Regions from separate parts of the Homo sapiens genome. Here regions 2, 3, 4, 5 and 6 are each linked to region 1. Evidence: fine-mapped expression QTL. A gene starts in region 1. Each other region holds a variant in brackets. All regions are shown on one strand. Distances are from middle to middle.

Region 1 (4,085 bases):
GTGTTGCTTAACCACACACCTAGGCTGTGTTGCTCCTAGGCTACAACTCTGTACAGCATGTTAACTGCACTGAATATCATAGGCAGTTGTAACACGTGGTGTTTGTGTGTCTACACATAGGAAAGGTATGGTAAAAATATGATATTATAATTTAATGGGATCATGTGGTCATTGAAATGTATACAGTGCATGACTGTAAATCTGAGTGGAGAAAAGTGAATAATGCTTCTGTTCACATTAGACCTGGGACTGTTATTTTCTGAGGAATTAATGAAGAATGGGAATAGCCTATATAGCTTATTCCTATATTGGTATCTCAAAGGCAGTGTAGTACCTAGACAATAAAAGTTGGACTGAATTGTGAAGAATTAAAAATGTGTGGGCCGGGCATGGTGGCTCACGCCTGTAATCCTGGCACTTTGGGAGGCCAAGGCAGGCGGATCACGAGGTCAGGAGATCGAGACCTCCTGGCCAACATGGTGAAACCCCATCTTTACTAAAAATACAAAAATTAACTGGGTGTGGTGGCGCGTGCCTGTAATCCCAGCTACTCGGGAGGCTGAGGCAAGAGAATGGCTTGAAACCAGGAGTCGGAGGTTGCAGTGAGCTGAGATCGCCACTGCAGTCCAGTCTGGGGACAGAGCAAGACTCTGTTTAAAAAAAAAAAAAAAAAAAAAAAAAAAGCGTGGCTTTGGCCTAAGACTGGAAGTACCCAGATTCCAGACTTAAGAAATCCTCATTAAAATGCTTTCAGTTGTTTTTCATGAAAGAAATGACCAGTGATACTTTGTAAACCATTTATCTGGCCATGAGTGATCAGGTGAGAAAACCGTTAGCGGACACCAGAATGATCTGGAGAGGATTAGGGACGGCTCTTGTGGGCACATTTTTACTCTAGTTTCATGGGTGGAGATGGCATCTGCCGTGGTCTGCAGCATGCAAGTAAAGACACCAGGTGGCACCATTTATTAGCTTTCAATCCCATGGAGAGGTCCCATCATGTAACTACCAAGAGGTTGAAGGAACCAACTACCTCTTGCATATTGTAGCTAATGGTTCTTGCCTTCTTCTTCCAGACTTGGGAAATAAATTTGAAAATCGTATTTTCTGTTTCATAATATTTGCAGTGCATGGTTGAAGGGAAGAAGGCCACGTGCTATTGCCAGTTGGTCTCCAGGAGGTGACATCCATCATCTCCATGTCAACTTGTGAGCTTTACAAATCTAATTTTCAGTACGTGGCTACAGTATACACAAGAAAATATGTGCTTTGCCACTTGGCTCTAAAGGCTCACCGTTGTACACAAGCAATGAGTTTAGGGGTTCTTCCCTCTTGTTATCACATGTCATCTCCACAGGGTTTCAAAAGATCTGGATAGGGTGAGACAGACACACCAGTGTAGTACTCCCTTGGGTCCCTTGTCTTTGGCTTAGGCTTTTTCATAAGGTATAATAATTTGTTAGAGGTTCTTCCCTCTTGCAGACACATGTCATCTCCACAGGGATTCAAAAGATCTGGATAGGGTGAGACGGACACACCAGTGTACTATTCCCTTGGGACCCAAGTCTCTGGCTTAGGCTTTTTCATAAGGTGATTTCTTGTGGTAGTAGTCAAGTGGAGAATACTCAGGAAATACTATTTCATGTAACATTTCCGTGTATTCCCTCTGCCTCCCCCGACATGAGTTAGAAAACTACCCCTCGATCTAGTATCAGCAAGCTCGACAGTGACCTCAGCAAGGAACAGCCCTAGATAAAAGGATTCATAAGTAAATGGAATGAGGAAAAGATCTGGAGCAACAAAGTCCTGGTCAGCTTTAGGTGAGGAAGCACAATGGGATGTTGGAGGCTAAAGAAGCCATGAAACCTAAAGTATTATAACATAGCATATTCACTTCTCTTTCCCCCGCACGCCCAAAGCTCTGTTCAAGGCCACCCTTTCCCCTTTCATGATGACCAGGTTGCCCAGTGCAAAAATACTGTTCTTAGCTATTAAATTGCATTACTCAGAATAATCCTTTCCACGTTGAGTCTACGTGCCGGACTGGCTGCGAGCAGAAACTACTTCAGTCGCTTTAAATCTCAACACTTGTGGTCGCTGGGAGCAGAGCTTTTAGGCTGTAGCTCAGTCTTGTAATTCTGAGCTAGGAGTTTCAGCTACGGTCCCTCGGGCCTATCAGATGACAACCTTAACACCCTGGAGGCGTGGTTATCGTCTTGGGGCTCTGGGAAGTGCAGTTCCATGGGGGACCAGGCCTGATAATACCATAAAAGGCTTGGTTCTCTCAATTCTGAAGCCATGTTCTGTTGACCTTCCTCTAAAAGCGGTACCCGCAATTGTGCGGATTCCGTGGTTCCCTAGTCCCAAGCCGTCTGCTTCCTGGGCCCTTTCATTGGCTCCGCCCCCGTAAACCTTGCTCGTCCACTCTGGAAGCGCTCTCCTGACTACAGGCCGCGCCCCTCGCGTCGGCTCCGCCCACCCAGCCCGCGGCTTGGCCCAGGCGGTAGTTCGCGTTTTGAGCCGATCGTGCCACCATAGCTCCTGCTGCTGCCTCTACCGCTGCGGCTACCGCGGCGGAGCTGAAATTGCCGAACGCGATGCCCGAGGGCGCTGTGAGCGGGGTGGCCTTAGCTCGCCGAGGCTGGTGAGGCTGGGCCCGAACGGGGGCGCTGACGAGTAGCAGGGGCCTCAGAGGCGGGTGAAAGATAAAGGTCCAGAGCCGCTGTGGAGGGCGGAGAGCGAGCTCTGGAGGATAGGGAGTGGGGGAGGGAGGCTCCCGTGGCAGAACGAGTTGTGGGCTACGGCGAGCCCCGCCGCGTCCCCGCCGGCGCTAGCGCAGGTGTCCAGGCCTGCGGAAATCCCTGGTGGTCTCGGCGGCCTCCTCCCTTGGACACTACAGTTGCCATGGGAACAGTTGGGCATTAACGGGAACCAGATCGTCCACGAGACCAACTGGGGCCCATCCCATCCATCTCGCCAGTTAAACGCCTCTGGCGGGCGTGGGCCTGGCATTTCTTCGTGGCTTAGGATTTTCCCCCCCTTTTTCGTGAGCCTTTCCTTCCGACGTTGTAAGAAACTGTGCAGGGCTAGAAGGTGGGGATGAGGGAAATGGTGAGAGCAATACCCAGAGGTAAAAGCTGCAGACTTCGCTAGGCAGAAGGTAAGACACTGTGATACTAAGGTGGCTTCTGCCATCTCAGGTCAGTGAGAGGGCATACTGGGAAGCCCTCTGGAGTGGGAAGACAGTGCCGCTGTTGAGACAAGACCCAGGACTGGGCCGGGGACTGTCCCAAAGGGTTTCTCGTCATAATGGCTGTGGAAGGGTCAACCATTACCAGCCGGATCAAGAATCTGTTGAGATCTCCATCCATCAAACTGCGCAGGAGTAAGGCAGGAAACCGACGAGAGGACCTCAGCTCCAAGGTGAGTCCTGTTGGGATCCACCTCTTTCCAAACCCACCCTCTCCTGCTCCATGTTCCTCGTTAACCTTCCTGTTTCTTGGGAAAGATAACTAGAAGCCCTTGTTGACTCTAAAGGATCACATATGATCTCTGCAGGCAATGATTTGGTTTTAGGTTGAAGGAAAAAGAGCAGCAGGGGTGGGCATGCTGAGATTCATCCATGAGAAAAGGTGAATAGTAGGAAGACCACCTGGGTTCAATTGTGGCCTCACTATACACTAAGCATGTGCTTGGGAAGCCAGTTGATATGCTATGACTCAGTTTCCCTTCTTGGGAGAGGACAGTAGGAACACATACCTTGTGAAGGGCTAAGCTGTGACTAATGTAGCTGCAGGTGTTAACGTAACAGCTGGGGTTATGTAAGACTGTAGTGGCAGAAAGAAATATGCTAAAACACCTAGTCAGAGTTACTGGCTTGGTAATTGCTCTTGCCTACGGTGAAAACAAATTTTTTTTGTCTCTTCAAGAGGCTAACTGGAGCCTTTTGGCTTCTTAGGAATAACATGCAAGAAGCCAGATATCTGTCAGCAAAACAGTTCTGGATGGCCCTTGAGCATTGCTTATCTCATTCACTATATGCCAAGAGCCACATCCCACTCAGCTGCAGATGATCCTCAGAGGCA
Region 2 (4,085 bases), 59 kb after region 1:
CTCTAGCCAGGGAAGCAAGCAGGCATGCCAGCTCTTTCTTTTCCAGTATTCCTGGGCCCAGTGGGGTCTTCTCACTCAGTTACAATATTTGATCTAAGAACATTCACTTTCCAACTGATCAGAAAGTAAAGGTGACTGGCATGGTGTGGCTGTGAGAGATGCAGTGTGACCTCAGAGGTGAACATCAGTGCCGGGACCATTTGGAGCAGGATGTGGTAACCACCAAATGGAAACCACGGCCTTTTGGCTCGACCTAGAGCATGAATGTAGCAAAGCGAAGCCCTGTACACTTTATAAAAACCAGCAGAAAGACACTCCAGTCTGAGTGAGCAGCTGGAACAAAGCTCTGCTGAGCTGAACACTCAACAGGACTACCTGCCTGCAGAGAGAGGAGCTATCCTCTTTGCTGAGAGCTGAACACTCGTTGGGACACCCTGGCTGCGGAGAGGAGCTGCCCACTGTGGGTCTCCTCTGAGCTATCCTATGGCTCAGTAAAGCTCCTCTTTGTCTTGTTTACCCTCTGCTTGTCTGTGTGTACCTCATTCTTCCTGGATGCAGGACAAGAATTGGGACCTGCTGAGTGGCGGGGCTAAAAGAGCTGTAACATGAAGAGGACTGAACCATGCGTCTTGCTCGCCACATTGTGGGTGTCCAGAAGGAAAGAAGAACTGCGGCCCTTTGGGGAGTCCAGACCCAGGAGCTTCCCAAGCTGGGGTTCTGACACCCTCTTTAGGGCTCTGCGGTTCCTGGTATCTGCAAGCTTCCAGGCACCACCATGCTTCCCAGTGTCAGCTGTGGAAGCTGCTTATGGTACACCTGGTCTAGCTGCAGCCTTGCAGGAAACCAGCACCTGTGTTGGCACCTGAAGCTGCCTGCCCCACCGCAGCCCACATGCCTAGCTGTGCGCAGTGGCCAAACCCCACACTCATTCGCTCACACACCCCTCGCTGCCCCACTCGCCCTTGGCAGGTGTGGGATCCAGGCCGGTAGCATGAGCTGAGCACAGCCTGCAGGGCCGAGTGGGCCCAATGGGCCCGAGCAAAACAGGCAAAGGCATCACTGGCCACAGAGGTTTCCAGCTGGTAAAGCAACACCCCAAAGATCCCGTGACAGTTTATGGCTGCGGTGAGCTATTATTGCGTCACTGCACTTCAGCCTGGGCAACAGAGCAAGACTCTGTCTCTTAATCTCAGCGAGTACAACAGGAAGATGTACTGAGCCCCAGACCACCCCATCTCTCAAGGTGACTGCTTGGATGGGCTGGCGTGACTGGGAAGGCCTTTGCCACTTTGCTGTCTCCTGGATTCCATATCTACTGGATGGGTGCCATCTTGCCTCTAGCCAGGGAAGCAAGCAGGCACACCAACTCTTTCCTTTCCAGTATTCCTGGGCCCAGTGGGGTCTTCTCACTCAGTTACAATATTTGATCTAAGAACATTCACTTTCCAACTGATCAGAAAGTAAAGGTGACTGGCATGGTGTTGCTGTGAGAGGTGCAGCGTAACCTCAGAGGTGAACATCAGTGCTGGGACCATTTGGAGCAGCATGTGGTAACCACCAAATGGGAACCACGGCCTTCTGGCTCGACCTAGAGCATGAATGTAGCAAAGCGAAGCCCTGTACACTTTATAAAAACCAGTAGAAAGACACTCCAGTCTGAGTGAGCAGCTGGAACAAAGGTACCACCTGAATAGAGGGTGTGTGGCAAGGGCAGGCACGAGACAGGAAATCAGACTGGAAGAGTAGGTTGGGCCTGGTCATGCGTGCCAAGGCAGGCAGCATTCTCTAAGGAGCAGTGGTAAGCCATCAAGGCATTTGTTACTAGGGGTGTGACAATATGAGATTGTATTTTCAGAAGATGACTGGGGCTATGATGATGAATGCTTTGGGTGGGAGTGGAATTAAGCCAGAGAAACCAGCTAGTTCACTACTGCAACCATCCAGCCAGGATACTGGAGACTTTTATTCAACATTAGGCAAATACTTGCTGAGCACATGCTATGTGCTAGGTACTGTTCTAGGTCCCAGGGGTGCATCAGTGAACAGACAACTGTCTCTGCCCTTGTGGAGTTCACATTCTAGCAAGGGTGAAAGAATGATAAACAGTTTATGTAGGTGAAATACATATATATATATATATATATATTTTTTTTTTTTTTTTTTTTTTTTGAGATAAAGTCTTGCTCTGTCACCCAGGCTGGAGTGCAGTGGCACGATGATAGCTCATTGCAGCCTCTACCTCTTGGACTCAAGTGATCCTCTGGCTTCAGCCTCTAGCGTAGCTAGGAGTATAGGTGCATGCCACCATGTCCAGTTAATTTTTAATTTTTTTGTAGAGATGGGGTCTCCCTA[C/T]GTTGCCAAGGCTGGTCTTGACCTCCCGGCCTCAGCAATCCTCCTGCCTCTGCCTCCCAAAGTGCTGGGATTACAGACATGAGCCACCACGTCTAGCCCTAAAATATATAGCATGTCAGATGGTGATGAATGCTAACGAGAAAAAATACGGAAAGGGATATAAAGATTTGCAGCAGGGGGACAGATTATAAATTTAGAAAGTATAGTCAGAGAAGGAAGTCTTATCAATGTGATATTTGAGTGAGGACCCAAAGGAGGTAGCTGGAATGTGGATGCCAGTGGAGGAGAGGAGACGGTGGGTTTGAGAGACATAGGAGACAGAATCAACAGGACTCAGAGCCAATCAGTAGGATGACGGGAGTGAAGGAGAAAGCTGAGTCAAAAAGATTTTGATTAGAGGTGACACAGGGCCACTGTAGACCCCTGCGCAGGCGGCACACCACGCAGCCTGCCGAAGTGTACGTGGTGGCCCTGGGTGTCTGGAGATGGTGATGCTGTTCAGCAGGACCCAAACCATAGCCGAGCCCTTCCTTTTCCTCCATTGGTGTCATCTGGTAGTTTGTCTTCCCGGGTAAGAAGGTTGTAAATTTCTTAAGATGATGATTGTGTCATCCCTGATAGCCCCAGATTAGCCAAGCCAAGTGCTGAGCACATTCCTGGTGCTCAGTAAATGTCACTGTTAAAGGGGGCTTCCCAGAGCCACACAACACCCAGAATAGCCCGTGGCCATGGGGCCTCAGCCTTACTCATTCTGGAGCTCCCAATGCCACTTCCATGGTGGCCTTTCCTGGTAGATGCTAGGAGGCTGGCCTCTCCAGGGTGGGAAGGCATAGGGTCCACTGTGCAGACACAGCCCCACAGGGGATTTGGCTTATGGGCTGGGTAGCAGCCTCTGGCCCTGTGGACGGTCAGGGCCCATGCTGGTGTGTGTGCGTGATGCTTTCTGCTTTCATTTTTCCGTCCTCATCTTTCTATTACTGGTTGTCCAGGGTCCTTTGGTCACCAACGAGCATTTCCCAGTGACACAGCGCGGCCTTTCCAGGGAGGGCATCTCTTGGGCAGGGACTGGGTGCTGCAGACATCAGCCCTTCCATCCCCTGTCTTCTTCTTTCTCTCAGAGCTCTGCGTGCCTCTTGCTGTGCCCTACCTGGACAAACCCCCAACTCCGCTCCACTTCTACCGGGACTGGGTCTGCCCCAACAGGCCGTGCATTATCCGCAACGCTCTGCAGCACTGGCCGGCCCTCCAGAAGTGGTCCCTCCCCTATTTCAGGTGGGAGCTGCCCTGGGGTCAGGTGTGAGCAGTGATTACTGGCATCTGGGCATGGGCTGAGTGTCCATTCCTCTAGAGCCACAGTGGGCTCCACAGAGGTGAGTGTGGCCGTGACCCCAGATGGTTACGCGGATGCCGTGAGAGGGGATCGCTTCATGATGCCAGCTGAGCGCCGCCTGCCCCTGAGCTTCGTGCTGGATGTGCTGGAGGGCCGGGCCCAGCACCCTGGAGTCCTCTATGTGCAGAAGCAGTGCTCCAACCTGCCCAGCGAGCTGCCCCAGCTGCTGCCTGATCTGGAATCCCATGTGCCCTGGGCCTCCGAAGCCCTGGGTGAGTGGAGGTGGGGTGGTCGTGGCCCTGGACAGGGAAGATATGGGAAGGAGGGGGGTCAGCCTGTTTGCCCTTAGGTGATGACCTGGCCTATGGGCTTGGTCCTGTCAGCATCTGGTGCAGCTCACTAA
Region 3 (4,085 bases), 130 kb before region 1:
AGCCTGAGATTTGGTATGATAAGAGTGAGTATTGTTTTGGGCATAGTGGAAAGATTTGGGCAGTGACAGTGTGGAAAGAACCAGGGTTGAGGACCTACAGATTAGGAAGATAGGTCATGGTTCGTATCATATTGCCTTTGTCTTTGGTGACCTGGGATTATAGAGATCAGAGGGAATGTTGGAAGTTATTGATTGACTTAATTGTCTGGACTTTGCAAGTTGTTTTGGTACTGAAACTGGTTTAAAGATTCAAATAGTATATTACTTGATCTCATAGAGGTGGTAAATCCTTTTTATAAAGTTAGCGTCAAAGGCAACAAAGACTGTATTCTGGGTGAGGGGTTGAATAAGCAGAGTTGAAATCACTTGTTAGGTAAAGGCTCCCAGAAGGAATGTGGTGAAAAGCCGATTGTGTCCAACGACTCCTGTGATGCTTATAGAGGGGCTATAAAGTTCCCCCAGGTTGAGGGGAATGTGGTGACAGGGTTCATTTTAGAATAGAGTGATTATCAGTTTAAAATTGAATGGCTTGTGGATATATGCTAGAAGGAACCAGAAATGAATATCTGTTAGGATACTGGGATATGGGTTACAATTTTTTTTTTTTTGAGGCAGAGTCTTGTTCTGTTGCTCAGGCTGGAGTGCAATGGCGTGATCTCTGCTCACTGCGACCTCCGCCTCCCGGCTTCAAGAGATTCTCCTGCCTCAGCCTTCTGAGTAGCTGGGATTACAGGTGCCTGCCACCCCATCTGGCTAATTTTTGTATTTTTAGTAGAGACGGGGTTTCGTTGGCCAGGCTGGTCTCGAACTCAGGTGGTCCACCGCCTCGGCCTCCCAAAGTACTGGGATTACAGACGTGAGCCACTACTGTGCCCAGCTTTTTTTTTTTTTTTTTTTTTTTTTTTTGGGACACAGTCTTGCTCTGTCGCCCAGGCTGGAGTGCAGTGGTGAGATCTCGGCTCATTGCAACCTCCGCCTCCTGGGTTCAAGCAATTCTCTTGCCTCAGTCTCCTGAATAGCTGGAACTATAGGTGTGCGCTGCCATGCCCGGCTAATTTTTGTATTTTCAGTAGAGACGGGGTTTCGTCATGTTGGTCAGGCTGGTCTCGAACTCCTGACTTCAGGTGATCCGCCTGTCTCGGCCTCCCAAAGTGCTGGGATTATGGGCATGTGCCTGGCCAGATATGGGTTAATTTTTAATTTTAAAATATGCTAGAATTTTTTTTTTTTTGAGACAATCTTGCTCTGTCACCCAGGCTGGAGTGCAGTGTCATGATCATATCTCACTGCAGCCTCTAACTCCTGGGCTCAGGAGATCCTCCTGCCTTAGCCTTCTGAGTAGCTGGGACCACAGGCATGTACCACCACACTCAGTTAATTTTTAAAGTTTTTTTTGTAGACGGGGTCTTCCTATGTTTCCCAGGGGTCTTGCTTGTCTTGAACTCCTGGGCTTAAGTTATCCTCCAACCTTGGCCTCTCAAAGTGTTGGGATAACAGGTGTGAGCTATTTTACCTGGCCTTTCTTTTCTTTTTCTTTTTTTTTTTTTTTTTTTTGAGACAGGGTCTTTCTCTCTTGCCCAAGCTGGAGTGCAGTGGTGTGATCTTGGCTCACTGCAACCTCTGCCTCCTGAGTTTGAGTGATTCTCCTACCTCAGCCTCCCTATTAGCTGAGACTACAGGCGCGTGCCACCATGCCTGCGCCACCATGCCTGCTAATTTTTTGTTGTTGTATTTTTGGTAGAGATGGGGTTTTGCCTTATTGCCCAGGCTGGTCTTGCACTCTTGGGATCAAGTGATCCACCTGTCTTGGCCTCCCAAAGTGCTAGGATTACAGGTGTGAGCCACCACACCTGACCTTTTTTTGATGGGGGTCTCACTGTGTTGCCCAGGCTGGACTTGAACTCCAGGTCTCAAGTGATCTCACATCTCAGCCCTTTCAGCATGAGAATTTGTCCTTCTCTTCCTGGTTGGGGATCATAATGTCTTCTTTTTTTCCCCTCTTGTTATACTATTCTTGTCCCATCCCACTTCTGACTTCACCCTTTTCTTTTGTGTGTTTTTCCTTGTCTTATGGTTTCTTCTCTTGTGTGGCTCTACTATTTTATGGCCCCTTCTCTGGCAATGTTTTAGTTTCTATTCTTGATTCCAGCTCCGTGAGTCTTTTCCTCCCACTTTCCATTCAGTTGAGAGGGAATAAGAGAGTACATTTTTACATTTAAGTCAGAGAATGTTTGTCATTCCTATTTAACTAAACTCTCATAGCACTCTTTCCTCACAAGCTGATGGTTAATTCATAGAACCTTTAGGTCTGTTGGATCCCCCTATCTAATTAGCTCGGCACAGGAGTCAGGAGCATGTAGTTTTTTTTTTT[T/A]AAATTAATTAATTTATTTTTATTATTTTTATTTTTTTAGATGGAGTCTCGCTCTGTCGTCCAGGCTGGAGTGCAGTGGCGCAATCTCGGCTCACTGCAAGCACCGTCTCCTAGGTTCACACCATTCCCCTGCCTCAGCCACTAGAGTAGCTGGGACTACAGGCACCTGCCACCACGCCCAGCTAATTTTTTTTTTGTATTGTTAGTAGAGACGGGGTTTCACCGTGTTAGCCAGGATGGTCTCGATCTCCTGACCTCGTGATCTGCCTGCCTTGGCCTCCCAAAGTGCTGGGATTACAGGCGTGAGCCACCGTGCCTGGCCCCAGGAGCATGTGGTTTTTATGTGGAGTTAGGAGTTGAAGGTGAAATAAGAGGTTCCTTAATCTGCAAGGCATTGTTGGTAGAGCTTTTGCCTTGAGAGATGACTCTGAGTGTGCTGACCAATCTGTCAAGGATGATGAGAGCTAGATTACTGTGCACCAAAGGAGAATGACAGTATCCTTTGGTGGTTTAGAGGAAGGCCAGTGTTTACACAGCAAGGGCATCAAGGCAGGCTTCATGAAAATACTCGACTTTAAGAATGAGGATGATTTCAATAGGAGGAGATTAGGGAGAATGATGCTGGTGAATTTATGGACTACGAAGGCAGAGAGAAGATGCTAAAGCAGCGTAATTATAAATGCAAAGGTTCAGATAAAAAAACCCGGGGAGCATATTTAGGAAATAAGGAGTAGTTGAGTATACAGCAGCAGGAAGAAGGAAAGCTGGGTCCAGAGTATTGAGGCCCTTATATGCTAAGCTAAGGAGTTGAGGTGCAACTTGGTGCTCATTGTTTGTCTTAGAGTTCTCACTAACCTTAAAGTTACTGAGAATTTACAAAGGAGTTGTTGAGCCTAGAGAAGCGATACAGTTTCTTATCGTTGATGTAAGATTGTACATCATTTGAACCTTAGTTTTGTGACATTAGCGTCTAACATTTATTTGTAGGTATTTCCTCTTAGTTTTTTTTTTTGAGATGGAATCTCGCTCTGTCGCCCAGGCTGGAATACAATGGTGCGATCTCGGCTCTCTGCAATGTCTGCCTCCCGGTTCAAGCGATTCTCCTGCCTCAGCCTCCCAAGTAGCTGGGATTACAGGCATACGCCACCACATCCAGCTAATTTTTGTATTTTTAGTAGAGACGGGGTTTTGCCATGTAAGTTAGGCTGGTCTCAAACTCCTGACCTCACGATCTGCCCACCTCGGCCTCCCAAAGTGCTGGGATTATAGGCGTGAGCCACTGCGCCTGCCCTCCTCTTAGTTTTTAAAGTTTTGAGATAAAATTAATGTACTATAAAATTTACCCATTTAAAGTGTATAATTCAGTGGTTTTTAGTGTATTCATAGTAATGCATCCATCACCACAATTTTAGAACATTTCAGCATCCCAGAAAGCAACACTATACTCATTAGCAGTCATTCCCTATTTCTCCCCCAGTCTTCCCAGGCCTAGGTGACTATCAGTCTACTTTCTATCTCTATGGATTGATCTGTTTTGGAACATTTCATATAAATGGAATCATACAAAATGAGGTCCTTTGTGATCAGACTCTTTAGCATGTTTTCAAAGTTCATCCATGTTGTAGCATGTATCCATACTTAATTCATTTTTATGGCTGAATAATATTTCATTGTGTTGATACAGCACATTTTGTTTATCCATTCTTCAGTTGAT
Region 4 (4,085 bases), 97 kb after region 1:
TCTTCTGCTGATTTGTGTACAACTATACAAGATTGGTGCTGGAGGGACTTCAGGCCCTTGTCCAAATGTCTCATTGCATGGAGGAAGGAAGGGTAAATGGCAGAAAGAGTCTTGTAAACTCTAAGTGCATGACAAACCCAGGGTTAAGTGCCTTGCTCAAGCTCACACTGCTAGCAAATCAGCAGAGTTAGGTCCCTAAACTCAAGCCTTTTTGCAGTGTCAGTTTGGGCCTCCTGGTCTGCCAGGTCCCAGGACAGTGGGATGCCGGGGACACCCCGTGGCCAGGACCTACTGTCCCAGTCTGATTCTCTGGGTTTCGGGCTCATCTCCCCAGGAAGCAGGGCTCCATGAGGGCAGCAGTTCCACTTTCCATAGCTTCTATATTGCCCTCCTCTCTCCACCCGTGGCTTCAGCAGGGAGCTGAAGACAGACATTAAATAGATACTGACTGATCCAGAGGTCACTGTCTAACATCTGGGTCTCCAGTTATGAGCTTTCCTGGGCAGTTCTTACTCCCAGCCCTGTCTGGGACCCTGCATGACTGCCCTGCCACTCACCTTGCTGGCACTGACCCAGACCCTAAGGTGTCACTGCTATGCCCATGTGCTCAGCCCCTGACCAGCCAGACTGACATCCCGTGTGCTCGTGCTCTCCCACCCAAGTCCATGCTTGTTCTCCCTCCGGAGCTGGAGGGCCTCATGCGTGCATGCCCATGCATGGTGCAGCACACACACATGCACACACACACCACCCAAAGGGCAGGAGCCCTCACCGCCGTGCGGAAGCGGGCCAGGAGGCGTGCCCGCTCCAGCTGGGCCCTGCGCTGCTCCATGCGTCGCTGCAGCACTGCCCACGCCTGCGTCACAGCTTGCTGCCTCTGCTGCACCGCATGGGCCTGAGGCCCCGGACACAGCTTCTGCACCCTGCCTGCAGTCTCCAGCAGTTCCTGCAGCTGCGGGAGGGGCAGGGAATAGGGAGGCAAGGGTCATGTCCTCCTGATTATCCCACAGATGTATCCCTTGCCTGGGAACTCTGGCCCCCTTGGGCCACGTCCTGCCATGCACAGGAGGCCCATGGGAGGCCCTGAGGGACAGTGGAAAATCTAGAGGAACAGGCAGGCCAGCCTGAGGGGGCTGCAGGGGCCTGGGTCGGAGAGGCAGCCAGCTGGGCTCACCTGCCGCTCGGTGCCCACGAGTTCTCGCTCCAGCCCCTGGTGGCTTCTCAGCTGCGCCTCCAGCCCACACAGGTCCCGTGCCACATTGTTGGGGAGGCTCGTGGCTTTCTCCTGAGGAAGGGAGAATGCCGAGGAGATGAGGGATGGAGCGTGGGCACTGAGCCTGGAGTGTATCCACTTCTAGCCACCCCTCCGGCTCACACCTGGACCTGGGTGAGGACTTCCAAGAGATCTCTGTGAACTCTGAGGGTGGTCTCGGTGTCTCGGAGCGCGTGGCCTCGGGCCTGGGTCAGCTCCCACAGCTCCGACCAGGCGGTCCTGCCCACGGCGTGTGGAAGACCAGCCGGGGATCAGCTGCCGGGCCGTGTCATTCCTCCCTCCCGCTAGGTCTGGTCAGCCCGCTCCTCTCTGAGTTGTATCGGGACTTGCCCAAAGCTCCTCCTTCTTAAAACCTCTCCCGCCTGTGGCCCTGCCTACGCACCTTCTTCCTGGGAGCCTGTCTTCTAGCTTTACCAT[G/T]AATTCAGTGCTTTGCTGCTGTAATGCTCGGCACTGCATGGTATCTGTGCTGTGATACTCTTTACATCCTGTGCTTTGACTCACAGTGCGTCACCCAGGTTATGATCACAGACGCTTTGTGGGCAGAGGCCACATCTCTCCGTTCCTCGCTAACTCTGCAACTGGCTGAGCTCCTAAGGCTTCTGCCAGGCCAGGCTCTGGGCTAGGGGTTATGAGCAAGTCATGACCTTGCCTCAAAGCTCACAGGCTGGGAGTGGATCCAAATCAGCCAAGTGGACAGCTAGGAACCACACGAGGCATGGGCTGTCCCGAGTGAGCACAGGAGCTGGGGTAGCTCAGGGGAAGGCCCTGATGTCTGGCCCCACCATCTTCCCACAGCTCCTGCTCTCAATCCTGGGGGCAGGACTCTGACCTGCACACCCAGCCTCACCTTCCTTCACAGACCAGAGCCTGTGGCGGGCTCAGCTTCTCTGGAGCTAGGCCCCCTGCAGAGCCCCGTGGGCAGCCAGGGCCAGTGTGGCCCTCACAGCATGCCATCCTCTCTTACCACTCTGGGCCCTGCCTGCCCAGCTCCTTCCCCCAAACCCCATGCTGGCCTGGCCCGTTGGGCACTCACTGCAGATCCTGCTGCCTCTGACGGACCATGGGGCCAGCACTGTGCCCACGCTCTAGCAGGCTCTCCGCCAGCAGCCGGCAGGCGGCCACCCGCTGGCTGCCCATCTCCACTTGGTGCTGAAACTTTGCAAACTTGGTGCAGAGGTGCTGAGAAGAGGGGAGTGGGTGACAGGGTAGCCCCCAGCTGGTTAGGCGTCAAGCAGCCTGGGAATCGAGGCACCTCAGTGCCCAACTGGGTGATGTGGGCTTGGATAGCCACGGCGTCTGCCCGCTCCACTGAGGAGGCCCCACCTCAGCCAGGGCTCACCGCTCTGCTGCCACCTTCTTCCTCCGCCCCGCCAGAGCCAGCTTCCCCACCCCATAGGCTCTGCCTCAGGGCACCCTCCTTGACCCTGGCCCTCTTCTCACCAGGGCGTGCTCGGGGTCCTCTCCCAGGCTCTCCCCTCCTTTGGCTGCCTGCTTCTGGCTTGCCAGCCAGCCCTGCAGGTCCTCAGCCTCCCTCAGGAACTCATGCAGCCTCAGGGTCCCCTCCAGTTCCCGGTCCCTGTGGTAACAGTCCGTGGTTCCCCAGAAGTGAGTTGCCCACCCCCCTGGGGGCCAGTCGGGCCAGCCAGAGGGGCCAATCTGAAAACTGGGGTTACTCATGGTCTCTGTCCAAGCCTGCGGCTCACGATTCAGGGAGTAGTAGACACAGCAGTGCAGGTGTAGGGGCAGAGGAGGGTGTGGACGTGGGGAGATGGACTGCAGGGAGTTGTGGGGCCTCACTGAAGAATTTATGGAAAGAGGTGAGCAACACACACCCTTTTCCCAATGCATCTCTACAGCCTGGGGTCATGGGTTCTGATTGACTTTGGGCCATGGCATGGGAACAGTCAGCTGTGGCTAGGCCTCCTGTACCCACTGATGAGAGGGGTTATGGTGTCCTCACCGTGTGGCCGCCAACTCCTGCAGTGCCCGCAGCTGCTCCCGGAGCCTCTCCTGCACCACACGCTGCTGCTCAGGGACTTCGGGGCCAGTGAGGGTTTGGGCCGTCTGGTCAAGCTCCTCCATGGAGCTCCAGTAAATGGCTAGTTCCTCCTGTAGAGCCTATGATGCATGAGGACCCATGCCAGGCTCAGCCTGGGTGACTCATCCACCCACCTGTCCGTCCCCCACCCATCCAGTCACCAATCCTCATCCATTCACCCACCACTCACACGCCCATCCATCTACCTCAACTCATTCATCCACCCACCCAGCATCCATCTACCCATTACTGATGGAGTAAGTACTTATTGTTCCATAAAGTGAACACCTGGTCTGTGCCCACTGAGGGCTCATTATTTAGCAGGGAAAGGTGAATGCTGGCTAATCTGGGCCAAGGAAGGGAGGGCACAGGAGGCATTAGACTGGACCCCAACATCCATGTGTAAGAGAGAGGCAGAGTTAAACAAGCTGTCCAGTATAGCCGGGAGATGGGTGCTCCGTGAGGCCAAGGCTACAGGCCTTTAGAAAGACCTTCTCTGAAGGTCCTGTCGCAGAACACACTGGAACTGGGGCTGTGCAGGAAACATGCCCAGACAGGAGGACAGTTCAGTGACAGCAGGAACCGGGACTGCCGTGGGCTCCAGGCTTTGAAGCTTGTGTGGTTCTGGGAGTCCGAATTCAGGAGTGAGGAAGGGGACTTCGAGACCTCCCTCCCTTCAGCCAGGGGATGTTTGTGGGAGGAGGTCGGCTTCATGAAGGGCATTTGGTTAACTCAAAGGATGACAGGTAAAGCCTGGGAGGAAGACACCTGTGG
Region 5 (4,085 bases), 94 kb before region 1:
TGTATCCAGTTTCCCGTCACCATTCATTGAAAAGACTGTCCTGGCCGGGTGCTGTGGCTCATGCCTGTAATCCCAGCACTTTGGGAGGCTGAGGCGGGCGGATCACGAGGTCAGAAGTTGGGGACCAGTGTGGCCAACATAGTGAAACCCTGTCTCTACTAAAAATACAAAAAAAATTATCCGGGCATGGTGGCGCACACCTGTAGTCCCAGCTACTCAGGAGGCTGAGGCAGGAGAATCGCTTGAACCCGGGAGGCGGAGGTTGCAGTGAGCTGAGATTGCACCACTGTCCTCCAGCCTGGGCAGCAGAGCAAGACTCCATCTCAAAAAAAAAAAAAACCACAAAATGAAAAGACTGTCCTTTTCCCATTGAATGGTCTTTGCACCTGTTGAAAATCAATTGCCCACATATGTGCAGATTGATTTCTCAGCTCTCTGTATTCTGTTCGCCTATATGTTTATGTTTATCTTTATGCCAGTGTCACATTATTTTGATTACTAGACATTTTCAAATTGGGCAGTGTGAGACCACCAACTTTGTTCTTATTTTTCAAAATTGTTTTTGCTATTTAAAGCCCCTTGAGATTCCATTTTCTTTTCTTTTTCTTTTTTGAGACTGAGTCTTGCTCTGTTTCCCAGGCTGGAATGCAGTGGTGTGATCTCGGCTCGCTGCAACCTCCGCCTCCTGTGTTTAAGCAATTCTCCTGTGTCAGCCTCCTGAGTAGCTGGGACTACAGGTGCGCACCACTGTGCCCGGCTAATTTTTTGTATTTTTAGTGGAGATGGGGTTTCACCATATTGGCCAGGCTGGTCTTAAACCCCTGACCTTGTGATCCGCCCGCCTTGGCCTCCCAAAGTGCTGGGATTACAGGGATTATAGGCATGAGCCACCGCGCTGGGCCGAGGTTTCATTTTCTACTTCTGAAAAATCCCGTTGGGATTTTGATAAGGATTTTGTTGAATTCGTTCAACACTTTGGGTTGTCTTCCTATTCATGAACATGGGATATCTTTCCATTTTAATTTTTTTCAATAATGCTTTTATGGTTTTCAATGTAAAAGTGTTTTGCTTTCTTAGTTAAATCTATTCCTAAGTATTTTATTCTTTTTGATGCTATTATATATTGAGTGATTTCCTTTTCTTTTTATATTGCCCATTGCTGTTTTGTATTGCATATTGTTCATTGTGTAGAAATACAATTGATTTTTGTGTGTTGAGTTTGTATCCTTCAACTTTGCTGAATTGTTTATTAAGTGAGTGGCTTGTGTGTGTGTGTTGTGTTGTGGGGGGGACTGAGTGCGTTTTTTTTGTGTGTATATGTGGGTTTTTGAAAGTTTCTCTATATAAGATTGCACCATCTATTAAAAGAGATATCTTTACAAACTCCTTGACAATTTGAATATGTTTTTTTTTCTTTTTCTTGTCTAATTGCTCTAAATAGGACTTTCAGTAGTAGGTGGCAAATAGTGGCAAAAGTGGGAGCATTATGGTTGTAGTTTGTCTTTTTCTAGTGATTAGCAAAGTTGAACACCTTTTTGTATTATTTATTGACCGTTGGGGTTACTCAGATGATTGTGTACGTGTGTGTATATTCTTGGACACTGTTTTCTTCCCTTGATCAGTTTGTCTACACGTAAGGCCCAAATCACATTGTTTTAATTGGTATAGCTTTATGATGGTAACTGCCTGACCATGGTCCTACTGTATTCCACCTCTGTGGTAAGGCGTTTTTCTAACTAGTCATTGTTGGTT[C/G]TTTACTTTGATGCATTTCTTACTCTGTCTCTTGAGTATATTGCTCAGGTTGTTGCAGCATTCTTTCTTCTAGTTTTGCCCTTGTCAGAATTATAATTTTTAAAAGGAAATTCAATAATGTTACTAATCTACTTAACTTTTCAGAGGTACACAGTTGCCTTACAATTTAAAAAATTAAGTAAAAATAGTACTATTCTGTTTTAACCCCCCCTGATGCATTGAATAAGAACCCATAGTTGGTCTCCATAGGTTGAAATGCATGGTCCCCAACAAGACTGCACCTAGTTGAGACATTAACCACAACTGGAGATCCTAGGCCACCTGTACTTTTCACCAGTTGGCTACAAATCCTGAGATTCTCACAATCTCTCTCAGGTTCACTAATTCACTAGACTCATAGAACTCAGGAAAACACTGTATTTAGAATTAGAATTTTGCTGTAAAGAATACAAGTTAGGACCAGCCTAATGAGACGTAAAGAACAAGGTCTGGGAGGGTCTCACATGCAGAGCTTCCATGCCCTCTCCCCATGGAAACATATAGGGTACATCACCCTTCTGGGACATCAGTGTGTTCACCAGCCAGGAAGCTTTATTAAGCTTTGGTATTCAAAATTTTGGGGGTTCATTACATAGGGGTAATTGACAAAATCTGTGATTGAACTTAATCTTCAGTTCTTTTCCCCACCCTAGAGGTTGAGCTGGCTCAGAGTCCCAGTTCTTTAATCACAGTGTTGTTGTTTTTGGAGACCAGTGCCATCCTGGATCTATTTAGGGGGTCTACTACAGGTCATGTCATTAGCTTAAACTCAGGTGTGAGCCAGTGGGTTCATGAATGACAGTCCCTTCTGTCACTCTGGAAATACCAAAGATTTTAGAAGCTTTGTACCAGGAACCCTGGACAAAGACCAGACAAGCTCATTATACAGCAAATACATAATACATAATGTAAAAAGATTAAATAAAACCACTTATGATGAAAAATAGTAGTGACTTGGCTTTACCATTTTTCACCCCCTAGTTTTCTTTATAGAGGAAATTAGTTTTTCCATTTTAGCTATTTCTTGTGGTATTTGCCTCTGTCTAGGTCATATGCATAATGCCAAATAATTATCAATTTTACATGTAATCCATTTAAAATTATTTTCTAGTACAATATATGGGCCGTTTAGTTGTTACTGTTTTTAAATCCTTGTAGTATACTCTGTTTTTTTTTTTTTTTAATTCTGTTAGTGTCATTATCATAATTTTTGGTCAACTAATTTTTCTTTCTTTTTGAGACGGAGTCTCACTTGGTTGCCCAGGCTGGAGTGTAGTGGGTGATCACAGTTCACTGCAGCCTCAACCTTCCAGGCTCAAGTGATCCTCCCACCTCAGCCTCCCGAGTAGCTGAGACTATAAGTGTGTGCCTCCTCGCTTGGTTAATTTTTTTATTTTTGTAGAGATAGGATTTCACCATGTTTCCCAGGCTGGTCTTGAACTCCTGTGCTGAAGTGATCTTCCTGCCTTGGCCTCCCAAAGTGCTGGGATTACAGGTGTGAGGCACCATGCTTGGCCAAATAATCCATTTTTTTATGTTATGAGATAAATATTCTATACTGCTGAGCCAAATGTCATGCTATGAGTTAATTTTCTTTTATAACTTTGTTTTGTAGTAGTTAATTATTGCTTTTTTAAAAAATATATTTGTAGTTTATATGTACTGGTGCTTATTCTACCCACATTTGTTTTTTTGTTTTTCCGAGATGGAGTTTTGCTCTTATTGCCCAGGCTGGAGTGCAATGGTGCGATCTCGGCTTACTGCAACCGCTGCCTCCCAGGTTCAAGCGATTCTCTTGCCTCAGCCTCCGGAGTAGCTGGGATTACAGGCATGTGCCACCATGCCCGGCTAATTTTGTATTTTTAGTAGAGATGAGGTTTCTCCATGTTGGTTAGGCTGGTCTCGAACTCCTGACCTCAGGTGATCTGCCTGCCTCAGCCACCCAAAGTGTTGGGATTATAGGTGTGAGCCACTGCACCCCCCTTCTACCTACATTATTTAATAAAATCTTTTGGTTCATTCATACACATACACACACACGTACATATATGTGCATACACATATTCATCTATTGAAAGTAAATTTTTGTGTGTACCTCCTCTGCATACTTCTTCGGGAGCTCTTTATTCTCCTTTGCCAATCTGATCTGGTTGTACTCTAGGCCCCTACCAAGCTGCCATCTTGGGATTTTCCTTTGCTATCATCCTGCTAACTTTACATTTGCTATTTTCATATAGGTTCTTTTTATTTATTTATTTATTTTTTTGAGATGGAATCTCGCTCTGTCACCCAGG
Region 6 (4,085 bases), 74 kb after region 1:
CCATGAGGCTGAGGCGTGGACTCCTCACAGAGTGGTGCGAGTTCTCTCCCTACGAGGTCGGCTTCCCCAAGTACGGGGCCTTCATCCCCTCTGAGCTCTTTGGCTCCGAGTTCTTTATGGGGCAGCTGATGAAGAGGCTTCCTGAGTCCCGCATCTGCTTCTTAGAAGGTGAGGGGCACTGGCAGGCTGGGGAAGCTGGGCCGAGCAGGGAAAATGGGTCCTGGGTGAGAGGGCAGCCTCGGTCAGAAGAGTTTCCTGGGCCAGGACTGGCCATGGGGAAGGGTAGGATTGGGACAAGAGTCGGGGGCCCTCTTCCCTCACGGCCGCTCTTTCAGGTATCTGGAGCAACCTGTATGCAGCCAACCTCCAGGACAGCTTATACTGGGCCTCAGAGCCCAGCCAGTTCTGGGACCGCTGGGTCAGGAACCAGGCCAACCTGGGTAAGTGCTCCGGGCCCTTCATAAGGGTGCCAAGGGGCAGCCAGCTGGGGCTGCACCAGGGGGCGGGGGGTTCACACCTCTTCCCCCTCCAGGGTCACCACCAAGGTGGGGATAAAGGTGCAGGAGTCCCCATTTCCCCCACCTTGCCTGTGTAGACAAGGAGCAGGTCCCCCTTCTGAAGATAGAAGAACCACCCTCAACAGCCGGCAGGATAGCTGAGTTTTTCACCGATCTTCTGACGTGGCGTCCACTGGCCCAGGCCACACATAATTTCCTGCGTGGCCTCCATTTCCACAAAGACTACTTTCAGCATCCTCACTTCTCCACATGGAAAGGTACCTGCTTCTCTCCAAAGTCCTCCTGTGGCCACCTGAGCCTTGAGTCCCCAGTCCAGATACCCCTCACAGTCCACTCCCATTCTCCTGCTTTGAGCTTGATTCCCTGGACTACTTGGAACAGGGGTCTTTTTCTCCTTGTCTTGGGGACCCAGGGCCCACCTGCAGGGCTGTGGGGGTGTTGGTTCAGCAGGAGAGCAGGGACCAGAGGCCAGAGTCTCTCCTTCCAGCAGGAATCTGGTACCCTTGGTATCTGTGACAATTGCTGCTCTCCCCAACCTTCCAGCTACCACTCTGGATGGGCTCCCCAACCAGCTGACACCCTCGGAGCCCCACCTGTGCCTGCTGGATGTTGGCTACCTCATCAATACCAGCTGCCTGCCCCTCCTGCAGCCCACTCGGGACGTGGACCTCATCCTGTCATTGGACTACAACCTCCACGGAGCCTTCCAGGTTGGGAAGGGTGGGCAGCCCACCAGGGAGGCGGTGGGTGGCCCCTGTCCCCTGAAGAGAGGGGCTTTGGAGTCCAGTGTCTGGTTCAGCTTCCTTTAGGAGCTGTGATTGGGACACTGGAATCTTAATTTGCCACCAGAGGAGCTCATTCTTTTCCGGAAGTTGGGAGGCTGGCGAGGTTCTCCTGGTATCTTGTAGCTGGGTCCCCTTTACTGACCTGCGAGGTGTGGTCCTGGGCCTCTGGGCCCACCTGCTGAGTCTGCTTTGGCTCCCAGTGTCAGAACTGGAATGCTGGGAGTAACCCGGCTCCGTCTAGCCCCAGAGGAGCTGCCACCGAGGCCTGTCAGGTGTGGAGAGTTTTTTTCCAACGACTGGCTTCATAGGCCCCACTGGAGACCGTTTTGGCATTTGAGCCCCAGGTCCTGTGCATCTTACGTCAGCCCCAGTGTTGAGGATGCCAGGGGCCCTGTCCCTCTGAAGCCCCTTCTGCCTGCCCTGCAGCAGTTGCAGCTCCTGGGCCGGTTCTGCCAGGAGCAGGGGATCCCGTTCCCACCCATCTCGCCCAGCCCCGAAGAGCAGCTCCAGCCTCGGGAGTGCCACACCTTCTCCGACCCCACCTGCCCCGGAGCCCCTGCGGTGCTGCACTTTCCTCTGGTCAGCGACTCCTTCCGGGAGTACTCGGCCCCTGGTGAGCTGCTGTTCACCTCCCCATCCTGCTGCCCCAGTCCCCCACACCTCCTCCGTCCCCTGTGCCTCTCCAAACCTGTCTTCCCCACAACGTGTTCCCCATGCCAGGCTGCACTCTCTCCACAGGGGTCCGGCGGACACC[C/T]GAGGAGGCGGCAGCTGGGGAGGTGAACCTGTCTTCATCGGACTCTCCCTACCACTACACGAAGGTGACCTACAGCCAGGAGGACGTGGACAAGCTGCTGCACCTGACACATTACAATGTCTGCAACAACCAGGAGCAGCTGCTGGAGGCTCTGCGCCAGGCAGTGCAGCGGAGGCGGCAGCGCAGGCCCCACTGATGGCCGGGGCCCCTGCCACCCCTAACTCTCATTCATTCCCTGGCTGCTGAGTTGCAGGTGGGAACTGTCATCACGCAGTGCTTCAGAGCCTCGGGCTCAGGTGGCACGGTCCCAGGGTCCAGGCTGAGGGCTGGGAGCTCCCTTGCGCCTCAGCAGTTTGCAGTGGGGTAAGGAGGCCAAGCCCATTTGTGTAATCACCCAAAACCCCCCGGCCTGTGCCTGTTTTCCCTTCTGCGCTACCTTGAGTAGTTGGAGCACTTGATACATCACAGACTCATACAAATGTGAGGCGCTGAGACCATCTGTTATTACTGCTGAGAAGGGCCATGTCATTCTAGGCTCTTGGCTGTACATGGCAAGGGCTGGTACAGAGCTCGCTCATCAGTGTTCTTCCTCCGAAGAGCACATTCTCTGCACACGTCTGCGTCTACCTGTGCTCAGAGTCACCCCTTCCAAGCAAGGAGGAGGCCACATGGGCCTGGGGTAGCCCTGGCCTTGCCCACCTGCTCTGCCGTAACACGTCTCCTCTTCACCCAGACAGGAATGCAGGGGGAGGCCAGGCAATGGCTGTTTCCTGCCACATGGTAGGACCCATCTAACCAGAAGGAACTGTCTATTCCAGAAGCTGGGCCTGGGGAACTGGGTTGAAGCAGCCACGGGAAGGAGCCCTTTTGCCTGTAGCTGAGTCTTATTCTGGTCCCTTAGATGTGTCCTCGCTTGTGCCCCTGAAGTTTGGTGTTGCACTGGGGTTCACCTCAGGGATCAGACCTGTTGGGAAAACGGAATGAATTTAGTAGGGTATGGCCACCCCAGAATCTTCTCCAAACAAACACACACTGGTGCCCCTGCCCTCCCCTGGACCAGCCAGCCTCCTAGAATAAGCGTGGGAGTGGATTCCAGAGCTGACTGACAGGCGCTGCAGCAGCGACCACAGTGACGCGTGAGTGGGTGGGAGTTGCCTCGACTTTCATAACCCAACTCTACGTCTGTCAGCTGGCCTAGCAGCCCCAGCCCTGGGTTAGAGACAGCAGAAAAAATGGCTGTCCTGGTAGCCTCAGGAGCCACTGTGTCCAGGACAAGGCCTGTCCCGTCAGCAACACATCATCTAAATCATATATTGGGCTCTGCAGGACTGGGAGCAGATGGTTACACTGGAGACCACAGCCGTGGCTGCCACCCCTCATGGTATGAGCCCTCCAGGCACACGGCTGTATATGCGTGTGCACATCTAGGCACATCCTGGCATGGGGCCCATGCACGGAGGATTTGCCTGTCTCCAGTCCCTCCTCCACTTTCACCTAACCTCAGGTGTCCCCTCCCCCTGGAGAGCCTGAAGCCCTCTGGTTTGGAAGGGAAGGAGATGTGGGTGAGGGGGGTTGAGCATCGAAATGATGCTGGGATCTACAAGGAGGGACTGAGGAGCCAGGTAAGAGCCTCCTGCCCCTGCACATCCACCTTCGCATCTCCTCCCTGGCCTGCAGGCCGGGACATGCTGGACCTCTCCATTGCCATGGAGTGGGGATTGGGGAAAGCAGGGGAGGACCAGGTAGAGAACGGGTTGGAACAAGGGTGGGGCAGGGTCTGGCCGTCCTGCCAATGTGCTGTGCCTTGGAGAGGGGAGAGGAGGGAGGAAAGTGAGGAGTGCATGGGAAACAAACCCAGGCAGGCTCTCAGCACTGGGCAGAGGGAAACCTGGCTGCTCCTCCCACAAGCAGCCGAGCAGGAAGGGCACAGGGAGCCTGGGCAGCTTCGTCTACAGGGTCCCCACACTAGAGCCTGGAGTGAGCCCTGGGAGGGGACCACTGTAGAGTCTGTGGAAATCTGGGCTTTGT

Direction of the effects. Alleles are on the strand shown, and positions count from the first base shown. SD is a standard deviation of normalised expression in the study named. Not every link is listed here.
For the expression in cerebellar hemisphere of the gene that starts at base 2,518 in region 1, G is the low allele of the variant in region 4 and T is the other (small effect, 0.37 SD a copy in GTEx).

What was found.
Region 2: its variant is fine-mapped to the expression of MAPKBP1 in whole blood (TOPMed, PIP above 0.99).
Region 3: its variant is fine-mapped to the expression of MAPKBP1 in whole blood (TOPMed, PIP above 0.99).
Region 4: its variant is fine-mapped to the expression of MAPKBP1 in cerebellar hemisphere (GTEx, PIP above 0.99). The same link has a PIP of 0.9 or more in cerebellum.
Region 5: its variant is fine-mapped to the expression of MAPKBP1 in whole blood (TOPMed, PIP above 0.99).
Region 6: its variant is fine-mapped to the expression of MAPKBP1 in whole blood (TOPMed, PIP above 0.99).

Annotation. Positions count from the first base shown.
Region 1 is chr15:41,771,967-41,776,051 of GRCh38, forward strand. MAPKBP1 (mitogen-activated protein kinase binding protein 1) reads left to right here and starts at 2,518. Exons shown (of 31, transcript NM_014994.3): 1 at 2,518-2,644; 2 at 3,201-3,423. The coding sequence starts at 3,310. RefSeq lists an enhancer at 1,965-2,014.
Region 2 is chr15:41,831,270-41,835,354 of GRCh38, forward strand. JMJD7-PLA2G4B (JMJD7-PLA2G4B readthrough) reads left to right here. Exons shown (of 25, transcript NM_005090.4): 2 at 3,471-3,624; 3 at 3,701-3,954. JMJD7 (jumonji domain containing 7) reads left to right here. Exons shown (of 8, transcript NM_001114632.2): 2 at 3,471-3,624; 3 at 3,701-3,954. Among named protein-coding and RNA genes, the nearest start is that of JMJD7-PLA2G4B, 5.2 kb to the left of the region's middle. The variant C/T (reference allele first, on the strand shown) is at 2,353.
Region 3 is chr15:41,637,155-41,641,239 of GRCh38, forward strand. It overlaps a transcript of MGA not described here. Among named protein-coding and RNA genes, the nearest start is that of MGA, 21 kb to the right of the region's middle. The variant T/A (reference allele first, on the strand shown) is at 2,372.
Region 4 is chr15:41,869,069-41,873,153 of GRCh38, forward strand. SPTBN5 (spectrin beta, non-erythrocytic 5) reads right to left here. Exons shown (of 68, transcript NM_016642.4): 27 at 3,234-3,391; 28 at 2,714-2,849; 29 at 2,307-2,452; 30 at 1,378-1,492; 31 at 1,175-1,285; 32 at 773-952. Among named protein-coding and RNA genes, the nearest start is that of MIR4310, 4.6 kb to the left of the region's middle. RefSeq lists a silencer at 686-946. The variant G/T (reference allele first, on the strand shown) is at 1,691.
Region 5 is chr15:41,678,442-41,682,526 of GRCh38, forward strand. All of the region lies in intron 2 of MGA (MAX dimerization protein MGA), which reads left to right. Among named protein-coding and RNA genes, the nearest start is that of MIR626, 11 kb to the right of the region's middle. The variant C/G (reference allele first, on the strand shown) is at 1,753.
Region 6 is chr15:41,845,608-41,849,692 of GRCh38, forward strand. It overlaps JMJD7-PLA2G4B (JMJD7-PLA2G4B readthrough), which reads left to right. Exons shown (of 25, transcript NM_005090.4): 20 at 31-168; 21 at 336-440; 22 at 596-775; 23 at 1,062-1,228; 24 at 1,730-1,916; 25 at 2,042-2,536. The coding sequence ends at 2,253. It overlaps PLA2G4B (phospholipase A2 group IVB), which reads left to right. Exons shown (of 20, transcript NM_001114633.2): 15 at 31-168; 16 at 336-440; 17 at 596-775; 18 at 1,062-1,228; 19 at 1,730-1,916; 20 at 2,042-2,536. The coding sequence ends at 2,253. SPTBN5 (spectrin beta, non-erythrocytic 5) reads right to left here. Exons shown (of 68, transcript NM_016642.4): 68 at 2,539-3,021. The coding sequence ends at 3,009. Among named protein-coding and RNA genes, the nearest start is that of PLA2G4B, 8.8 kb to the left of the region's middle. The variant C/T (reference allele first, on the strand shown) is at 2,058.